Linked DNA regions of Homo sapiens. The protein of the gene in region 1 purifies or fractionates together with the protein of each later gene. This does not show direct contact. Each region holds a gene or a part of one and is shown in the gene's direction. Other genes may lie near its edges. The genes, in order: ZFYVE1, OCIAD2 and WHAMM.

Region 1 (3,229 bases):
CAGCTTCAACCCAGACACTTAGTGAAAGGAAACTCACTGTCCACCAGGCTTCCTTTCCATTCTCAGATAACGCGTTACTAGAAAGCTCTTGTCCTTGTTGAGCTAACGCCACCTGCCTTAGTTTCTGCTTGCTCCGGGGTCTTGTTGACTTTCTCAGCTGAGCAGACATGTACCATACCTACCTGCCTCTCTGTTTTGTTTTGGGCTTGGAACAGAGCTGCAACAAGTGTGCGACGTCCTTTAAAGATAACGACACTAAGCATCACTGCCGAGCCTGTGGGGAGGGCTTCTGTGACAGCTGTTCATCAAAGACTCGGCCAGTGCCTGAGCGGGGCTGGGGCCCTGCGCCAGTGCGGGTCTGTGACAACTGCTACGAAGCCAGGAACGTCCAGTTAGGTAACGTGGGACCTGGGAGCTGCAGGGGTGGAGGGGAGAACCTCCCACATTGGCCCTGGGTGCTAAGAACTGGATATCCAGATGCCCTAATCCACATCTCCCTTGTGAGAGTACTTCTGGTCTTGGCCAGTCAGCCTCTAAGCTCCTTGTTAACAGCGTCCTATGGGTGCTGTTCCTCAGGGGCTCGAACCTGTCCTGCATTCTTAGCTGCAGAGTTGCTTCTGGGGGAAGGGAATGCGCACATAGCAACTGAATTCTGAAAAGGCTGCAGTGTTTACCAGAGATGGCTTAGACCAGTCTTCTCCTTTGAGAAGGTTCTAGTTTTCGCTCCTAGAACCTTTCTGCCTTACTTTAAAAGAAGGGTTATAAAGGAGCCCCAGAAGGTTGCAGCTAAAGGACTAACAGATGTCATCTAATTTCAGAGTCTGGGCTGACCTGACCCACAGCACAGACCCTTGCAGTAGTTGCAGGACAGCACAGTGGTGTCTGGGATCAGAATCCAGAAGCGTTCTGCTATTGGTCCCTGAGTTTTCCATTTGGGAGAGGACTTAGAGGTGACAGCATTTCCTTTATTACTGTCTACAGCTGTTACCGAGGCACAAGTGGACGATGAAGGTGGAACGCTCATTGCTCGGAAGGTGGGCGAGGCCGTGCAGAACACTCTGGGAGCCGTGGTGACAGCCATTGACATACCACTAGGTGGGCCTGGCAGTGCTTCTCTTGGGGGTAGTGGATGCGGGTTGAGGGGTTTCAGGTGCCCTGGGCTGTCACTTTGTAAAGGCTTGCCAACCTAGATTGAGATGGGTGGTAAAGGAATCAATTACACAATGCCACACATTTGCTTGCTTCTGCTGAATGCCTTAGTAGTTTCATGTTTATTGCTGGAAGCCATTCTCTTACAGCATCTAGTGCTGTGTAACGAGCTACCTTAAAATGTAAAGGCTTAAAACAGCCATCTTTGATGTCTTTGCAGGTCTAGAAGTCAGGAAGGGTAATTATTCAGCTCCAAGTGGCATTGGCTCTAGTTACTACCTGATATTCCAGGGTGGTAGCTGGAGTGGTCTCAAGGGTCCAAGCTGACCTCACTTACAAGCTGGGTGCCTTGGCAGGGACAGTTAGGAGGCTGTGTGTAGCAGAGCCTCACTCGGTCTTTGTATTCTCCAGGCCTCTTCAGTGGTTTCTTTGGCACTTCTTAAATGATGTCAGGGTTCCAGGAGTTAATGTTCCAAGAGACAGGAAGTGGATGCTGCCCATCTCTTTTTTTTTGTTTGTTTGTTTGTTTGTTTTTTTGAGATGGAGTCTTACTCTGTCACCCAGGCTGGAGTACAGTGGTGCGATCTTGGCTCACTGCAACCTCCGCCTTCCAGGTTCAGGCAATTCTCCTACCTCAGCCTCCCAAGCAGCTAGGATTACAGGCACGTGCCACCATGCCCAGCTAATTTTTGTATTTTTAGTAGAGACGGGGTTTCACCATGTTGACCAGGCTGGTCCCGAACTCCTGAGCTCAGGTGATCCACCGGCCTTGGCCTCCCAAAGTGCTGGGATTACAGGCGTGAGCCACTGTGCCTGGCTGAAGCTGCCCATCTCTTGAGGCCTAGGACTGCAGACAGGCACTTCTGCTGTCATCTCCTGGAGTCTGCTGCCGTCACAGGTTTGTCTAGATTCAAGGGAGGGGGCAGGAGTGTCAAAGATGGAAAGTGGGTGAAAGATTCTATGGCTGTCTTTAGTCTGTCACACCAGCCAAACTGTTAGTAGTTTAAGATTTAAAATAGCTGGCCGGGCACCGTGGCTCACGCCTATAATACCAGCACTTTGGGAGGCCAAGGCAGGTGGATCACGAAGTCAAGAGATCAGTCTTGGCCAACACACGGTGAAAACCCGTCTCTACTGAAAATACAAAAAAATTAGCCAGGCGTGGTGGCGGGCACCTGTAGTCCCAGCTACTAGGGAGGCTGAGGCAGGAGAATGGCATGAACCCGGGAGGTGGAGCTTGCAGTGAGGCGAGATCGCACCACTGCACTCCAGCCTGGGCAACAGAGCGAGACTCTGTCTCAAAAAAAAAAAAAAAAGAAGATTTAAAATAGCTACCCAGCCCTGGATGTGAGGGGTATTTGTATTTAGGATGGCGAGGGGGAGAGGGAGGGAAATCAACCAGTGCTTGGCAGGCTTACGCAAGGCTGGCCAGGCCTGGGGCAGCGTGGCACATTGTAGGGGAGCGAGCAAAAGTGAGTAGTGATGAAAATGGCCTGGAGCAGATTTCCTCATTGCAGCTCACAAAGTGAGTAGATGATGTAGGAATTGCTGGATTTGCCCAAGCTTAAATCTCAGGTTGCATCTGTCCCCAGGGGTACCTGGGAGAGGCAAGAACTGTCCTTGGCACAGAAGGCAGAGCATAGCCTGCTGGCTGTGCTCACCAAGTGCTCCCATTCTGAGCGCCCACAGGGTGTTGAGTACCAGGCCAGTGTGTCAGGCATGTTCTTTCTTCTCATCCTCATCACAGTTCTTGAAGGTGGGTTGTTAAAGATGAGTAAGCCCCTGAGAGGTTAGCTAACCTTTCTTTTTTTTTTGAGACTGACTCTCGCTATTGTCCAGGCTGGAGTGCAGTGGTGTGATCTTGGCTTACTGCAACCTCCACCTCCCAGGTTTAAGCGATTCTCATGCCTCAGGCTTCCAAGTAGCTGGGGTTATACCACCACGCCCGGCTAATTTTTGTATTTTTAGTAGAGACAGGGTTTCACCATGTTGGCCAGGCTGGTCTCGAACTCCTGACCTTGAGTGGTCCTCCTGCCTCTGCCTCCCAAAGTGCTGGGATTATAGGTGTGAGCCACCATGC
Region 2 (3,751 bases), on another chromosome or scaffold:
AGATCCACAGCCTCTCTCCAAGTCAACACACTCAGTCAGTCCTGGCAGCTCAGCCCAGAAAACTTTGTCAGCCATGGCTGGGGTAACTGTGTCCAGAGGTGTTTGAACAAGAGCCACTCCATCTTGAATAGGGACTGAGTAAAATAAGGCTGAAACCTACTGGGCTGCCTTCCCAGGTGGTTCAGCATTCTTAGTCACAGGATGAGATAGAAGGTTGGCACAAGGTACAGGTCACAAAGACTTTGCTGATGAAACAGGACTCAGTAAAGAAGCCAGCCAAGACCCACCAAAATCAAGATGGTCATGAAAGTGACCTCTGGTCGTCCTCATTACTCATTAAATGCTAATTTTAATGCATTAGCCTGATAAAAGACCCTCCCACCAGGGCCATGACAGTTTACAAGTGCCATGGCAACGTCAGAAAGTTACCCTATATGGTCTAAAAAGTGAAGGAACCCTCAGTTCCGGGAATTGCCCACCCTTTTCCTGGAAAATTCATGAATAATCCACCCCTTGTTTAGCATAGAATCAAGAAATAACTACCAGTATAATTAGCTAAGCAGCCCACACAGCTGCTCTGCCAGTGGAGTAGCCATTCTTTTTTGTTGTTGTTCTTCTTGTTTTTTGTTTTTTTTTTGTTTTTTTTTTTTTTGAGACAGAGTCTGGCTCTGTCGCCCAAGCTGGAGTGCAGTGGCGCAATCTCGGCTCACTGCAACCTCTGCCTCCGGAGTTCAAGCGATTCTCCTGCCTCAGCCTCCCGAGTAGCTGGGATTACAGGCATAGAGCACCATGCCTGGCTAACTTTTCGTATTTTTAGTAGAGAGAGTGTTTCACCATGTTGGCCAGGCTGGTCTGAACTCCTGAGCTCAAGTGATCTGCCTGCCTTTGCCTCCCAAAGTGTTGGGATTATGGGCGTGAGCCACCGCACCCGGCCTGTTTTCTATACTTCCTTAATAAACTTGCTCTCACTCTACGGACTCACCCCGAATTCTTTCTTGCGAGAAGTCCAAGAACCCTCGCTTGGGGTCTGGATCGGGACCCCTCTCCGGTAACAAGTGATATCGGTATTAAAGGTACCCCCACATGTCAAAGGCTTCCCTCCACAAGTCAGAGTTGGGGAGGGACAGGAGGCAGCAGGGGACCGACAAAGAGCAATGGAAAGAGAAGGCCTGGGAGCCAAGCAGGCCTGGGGTTGACTCCAGGCTCCCTTAGTGGCCTGCACAACTCAGATGACCCGTCTGTGAAGTGCAGGTCACAGTGGGCACCACACACGGCTGCAGAAAGGAGTGCAAAGGTGATGCCCACGCCTGGCCTAGGGCGGGGGCGCAATACATGGCTGTTGCGGCTGTGATTGCTGGAGGAAGGGAGTCATTTGGAAGGCACAAAGGAACTAGAACCTACTCGGTGTCGGGACAAGCCTCAAGGATGGGGCAGGGGTTCCGGCAAGAGCTGGGTTCCAGCCTGGGTTGCCACCAACAGCGAAAGTGACTGCCAGGTGGCAGTAGGGTGACTTCACCAGCTTAAGTGCTTAGCGGGCAGGCGAGGGGGCGGAGCAAGAGAAGAAAACACAAAGGGCCGGAAGGAAGCCGGGGAGACAGGTGGGGTACTCGGGAAGCTGGAGCGGGCCGGCGGTGCAGTCACGGGGGAGCGAGGCCTGCTGGGCTTGGCAACGAGGGACTCGGCCTCGGAGGCGACCCAGACCACACAGGTGAGCCCCCGCCCCGGGGAGTGTTGACGGCGGGAGGGGGTGGCCTCGGGGGAACGCGGCGCCGCAGGGCAGTCCTTCGAAGGCCGCGCGGTGCAGCGGTGGCCGCCCCCCACTCTCCCCTAACTCGGACCCCGGCGGCCCCGGCACGGGCGAGGGGCTGGGGAGCTTGGGGTGGCGCTGGCTGCTTCTGGCCAGGGATGGCAGCGGACTCCAGTAGGCTGACTCCCGGCTTCCCCGACCGCATCAGAAAGTGCAGTGTCCCCCGTCCGCCGTCCAGCCCTGCAGGCGCCCCCCTCCAAGCCATCCTAAGAAGCACCCCCGCCCCCCATGCTGGGGCGCGCCCTCCTCCGCACATTCGTCGGTCAGCACCCACGAACCCACGGGTCCCTTCCCCACCACTGAGGAAACAGAGGGTCCCCGGACCACCCCAGCGTGGGGGGTGGGAGCTACACCTGCAAGGCAAGACCCTCGGAAGGCTTGCTTTTAGGTGCAGACTGAGGACTAAGTGGGTGCCAGGGGACCTGGCCACCGAAGCTGAGAGGTATATTTGCCTCCCAATATAGGGCAGCGGCCTAATGGCTAAGCAAAGATAATCTAATTTGGCGTGGTCAGCAAAGACTTCCTGGGAGTGCTCAGGAAATGGAAGGTGTGCAGGGGCTTTATGGACGTATCCCTCATCCTCATCCTCATCCTAGTCTTCATTCCTGCAAGAGCCCCTCACCATTGTTGTGTCCATTATGCCCAATTAACAGTGGAGAAAGCTGAGGCAGAGACGGATTAAGTCATTTGCACCAAAGGGATCGCAGGGGTAAAGAGTCACGATTTGAACTCTGGTCTCTCTGACCCCAGTACTTTCCCGTGCAGGGCACCGTGCTGCCCCTGTAATCACATTAGACACCTGTGATGAAACTTGGTGCGAGTACGGGTCCCCTTGGCTCAAATGCCTCAAAGTTTAGTAACTGATGTAGGAAACAGAATTGTATATAAGAGGTTCATTTTGCAGAAGAAAAGCAGAGGTAGAGGTAGAGTTCAGGGCTGCAGAATGCAGTGGCCACTGGGGGCAGGAGGAGGCTCAAAGTCCACCTGGATTATGTCCATCATTGCCAAATCCAGGGTCCACTTTTCTAAGCCATGTGATGGTGTTGATGATTCACTCCCTCCTTCAGAAATTCCCTCCCCTCTGTATCAGCTATTCCTTCTCAGTCATTTCCTTGGCCTGCTTTTTTTTTTTTAATCTTTCTTCTCTTTTCGATATTCCCTTGGGCTCAGTGTTCATATTCTCCAGTACTGTTTTTAGACACATTTATTAAAGTTCCCTGCTTTAACTCTCATCTCTATGATGGCAGCTCCCAACTTCATCTCTCTAGCCTACCCCTGTTCTGGAACTCTAGACCCAAATCGTCAAATATTAACAGTGGCTAATTCCACTGTTTGCCCCCACAGGCACCCAAATCCAACATTTCCAAACCCAAATTTAGCATCTCTATCAAAGATGCTAAATTCCCACCAGGGTCTTTGTTCACGTCCCTGTAACTCCTTGTCTGGACTAGTGTACCACCTTCCAACCTGGTCCTCCTGCCCCAGAGTCCATCTACCCTCCACAGATCCTCCTGAAAGCTTAGGAGTCCTAGTTCCTTTGTGACATGACTAGATGGAATGGACCCTGCTTTCTTTTCTTCCTTAGCATCCCATGCATACTTTTCATGTTGTGTAACTGTTGACTTGTCTATCTCCCCTTTTGGACTGTGAATTCCTTCACAGCGGTGATCTTGTCTTATCCTTCTTCATATCCCCTGGCCTGGCACATAATCGACACTCAGTGCACAGTGTGGTATTTCCACTCTATTCTAAATCTGATCTGTCCCCATTAGTGAGTGCATGTATGTGTGCTGGTGGAAGAGGAGCACTGGAAGTTGAGTTTGCAGATGGACTAATGACAAAAGGAAAAACACATTTTCCAAATAACTCCAGTGGATCCTCAGGATGCTTTTAAGCTTGATGCAAACATTTAGTCATGGCATAGTGATTCTCTTCTACCTTCCT
Region 3 (3,132 bases), on another chromosome or scaffold:
AGTTTGACAAAGGCACCTGCCACAGTAGGCTTGAATAAAGTGGGTGAGTCTTAGACCTATCGAAAAGCATACTAACAGGGTGCTGATAGATGGGCCACATAACACCCCGGAAGATCAGCAGGGCCTTGTGTAGGCTGCTGCAGCATTTTTTTTTTTTTTCTTTTTTGAGATGGAGTCTCACTCTGTCGCCCAGGCTGGGGTGCAGTGGCGCCATCTCGGCTCACCGCAAGCTCCGCTTCCCAGGCTGGGGTGCAGTGGTGCGATCTTGGCTCACTGCAAGCTCCGCCTCCTGGGTTCACGCCATTCTCCTGCCTCAGCCTCCCGAGTAGCTGGGACTACAGGCGCCACCACCTTGCCCAACTAATTTTTTGTATTTTTTAGTAGAGACGAGGTTTCACCGTGTTAGCCAGGATGGTCTCGATCTTCTGACCTCGTGATCCGCCTGCCTCAGACTCCCAAAGTGCTGGGATTACAGGTGTGAGCCACCACGCCCAGCCTTTTTTTTTTCTTTCTTTTGAGACAGAATCTCTCTGTCATCCAGGCTAGAGTGCAGTGGCACGATCTTGGCTTACTGCAACCTCCACCTCCCAGGTTCAAGCAATTCTCTGTCTCAGCCTCCCGAGTAGCTGGGATTACAGGCATGCACCACCACGCCTGGCTAATTTTTGTATATTTAAGTAGAGACAAGGTTTCGCTATGTTGGCCAGGCTGGTCTTGAACTCCTGACCTCGTGATCCACCTGCCTTGGCCACCCAAAGTGTTGGGATTATAGGCATGAGCCACCGTGCCTGGCTGATGCTGGAGCTTTTATGTGACATGGTGACTCTTAAAACTGGGGAGGGACGTAGAGATGAGAGTTTCACACACCAGCCCATAGGTGGGATGTCAAGACCCATCGGAAGTGTCGCTGGCCTAAGAGAAGAGCACTTATTTCTCACCATGGCTGATCTAGAATTGTTCCCTGATTCTGAAAGAAGTTTACACTACACTGGTAAGCAGTACTATTAGACTACTGACTGTGGCCTTCTGTGCATATGGAATAATGATTTCTCAGATTTGTAGGCTTGAATGTGAATGTTATTTTATCAGTAATCAGAATAAATTGCTTATATTCAGGAGTTATTTTAAATATTTAAATGAAATTTATTTTAGGCACCAAGCACTACATAAACTCATAATAACTATTTGCAATGCATTAGCATCACTCACGGGGTAATGAAAACATACCTTAGCTGCTGTAAAAGCAAAGTCTTCCGTGTCCGGGTGGGCTGAAAGTTTTTAATAAAATTTTAGCTAAACATTTGTTTAAGTGAATACTAAGGATGGAGCAATAGTGTTATTTTCCTCAGGAACTGAAGTCTCATGCTGAAGTATTTTCTCCTTAAAATTAAATTTTTAAAATCAGGGAAGGGGAAGGGACTGATGCAAAGCAGTCCGTTCATTTCTCAGACTGCGAGCATCCCTACTAACCTCATCACCCTCACTCTGGTGATATTACTCCTGGGTCTCCACAGAACAAAAGGAACGCACCTCGTTTACAAAGAAAGTCCTGATTGATATAGAACAGAAATCTTCCTACTTCAGTTTTTTTGTTTTTTTTTTTGAGACAGAGTCTTGCTCTGTCAACCAGGCTGGAGTGCGGTGGCACGATCTCAGCTCACTGCAACCTCTGCCTCCTGGGTTCAAGTGATTCTCCTGCCTCAGCCTCTCGAGTAGCTGGGACTACAGGCGTGTGCCACCACACCCAGCTAATTTTTATATTTTTAGTAGAGATGGGGTTTCACCATGTTGGCAGGATGGTCTCGATCTCTTGACCTCGTGATCCTCCCACCTTGGCCTCCCAAATGCTGGGGGTTACAGGCGTGAGCCACCACACCTGGCCTTCCAGTGTCTTAACTAACTGGTACACAGCAGCCTGAGGGGCCTCAGTTGGCACAGCTGGGAGGGGCGTGAGTCCCTTTCAGCAGCTGCAGCCTGGGTCTCCCTCTGTGGCATGGCCACTGCCAGGTTTCCCAGCCACTGCCAGGTTGCCCACGGGTCTGTCATGTGTGCTACCTTTTCAGAATGCAAATCCAACTCCTGTGTATGAATGAATGTGCCTCACTGTGCTGGCCCAGGCCTGATGGGCCAAGCCCTGACTCTGCACTGGCCCCTGTACCTGCCGCTCCCACCCAGGTTCCCAGGGGTGTTCCAGTGGGGGACGCAACCTGCGGGCTACTCGCTGGGCATCAGGTCCAGATCCCAGAGACAGGTCCAGTGGCTGTGGCCCAGGCCTCCTTCCCCACCACAGACAGGCCAGGCTCAGCATCAAACTTCCTAGGGAAAGAATTTGGAATTGAAAAAGTAGCAAAATCACAACTTTGTGGGACTTTTCTTATGCATATTTTGCAGTTTGGCATTGTTTGTAATTACGTATTTATAATTTCAGTATTTTGAGATACCAGCGAGCTTAATCAGGCTAAAATAATTCTCAGAATTTGCTTTCTAAGGGCTGCCAAACACAAGAGGCCTTTGAAAAAAGGATCCTTTTCAAAAGAACGTTCTCACAATAAAAATTCCTGGCCCAATTGTGTCTTCTGTGCATCAACGCTTCCTTTCCTCCTCTGGAACCTTCTCTCCTTCCTTTCTCCCTTTTCCTGCTTTTTCCAGCCAAGCCTTGAAGTCAATCCAGACTTTGGCTTCAGGGAATTCAGAGCCAAGGAAGTGGGGACAAGTGTCTCCTATTGCCCAGCTTCAGAGCTCTCCAGTCGGCCTCCAAAGCACTGCCAGTCTTCACCTCTCCCTGGCTTTCCAGCCCACACAGGAAGGGCAGCCCCTCAGCCTGGCAGACAAAACCCTCAGAGACTTGGTTGCCTCCCCTGGGCAGCCCCTGCCCCTGCCACAGGTTTTAGTCCAGCAATACCATGCTGCTTCCTGCCTGCCCCCAAAGGGCCTGCTCTCTTAAGTGCCTGGAATTCTCCCTGCACCCTTCATGTCCTGGCAAACCCATGCCCATCCTTAGGTCTCAACCCCACAGCCTTTTCCGCCAGGTCTTCTCTGACCTCTCTCTCCTATACAGCCATGTACTTTGTCTTGGGAGTCTGGTACAAAGGAGGACTGGCATCTGCTCCTAGTACAGCCAATCCTATGGAT

Evidence for each region.
Region 2: the proteins of ZFYVE1 (region 1) and OCIAD2 purify together in Homo sapiens (affinity purification with mass spectrometry, with the first as the bait; one study listed by BioGRID). This does not show direct contact.
Region 3: the proteins of ZFYVE1 (region 1) and WHAMM purify together in Homo sapiens (affinity purification with mass spectrometry, with the first as the bait; one study listed by BioGRID). This does not show direct contact.

What each region holds. Positions count from the first base shown.
Region 1 is NC_000014.9:72,971,946-72,975,174, reverse strand, and holds part of ZFYVE1 (zinc finger FYVE domain-containing protein 1), read left to right. Parts: intron 1-215; coding exon 216-396; intron 397-981; coding exon 982-1,095; intron 1,096-3,229. UniProt on the Homo sapiens protein: Plays a role in the formation of lipid droplets (LDs) which are storage organelles at the center of lipid and energy homeostasis. Regulates the morphology, size and distribution of LDs.
Region 2 is NC_000004.12:48,904,615-48,908,365, reverse strand, and holds the start of OCIAD2 (OCIA domain-containing protein 2), read left to right. Parts: upstream 1-1,591; 5' UTR 1,592-1,708; intron 1,709-3,731; exon of another isoform or gene 3,732-3,751. UniProt on the Homo sapiens protein: Has an essential role in the assembly of mitochondrial respiratory chain complex III. Is also required for STAT3 activation and plays a role in cell migration.
Region 3 is NC_000015.10:82,833,542-82,836,673, forward strand, and holds the end of WHAMM (WASP homolog-associated protein with actin, membranes and microtubules), read left to right. Parts: 3' UTR 1-2,567; downstream 2,568-3,132. UniProt on the Homo sapiens protein: Acts as a nucleation-promoting factor (NPF) that stimulates Arp2/3-mediated actin polymerization both at the Golgi apparatus and along tubular membranes. Its activity in membrane tubulation requires F-actin and interaction with microtubules.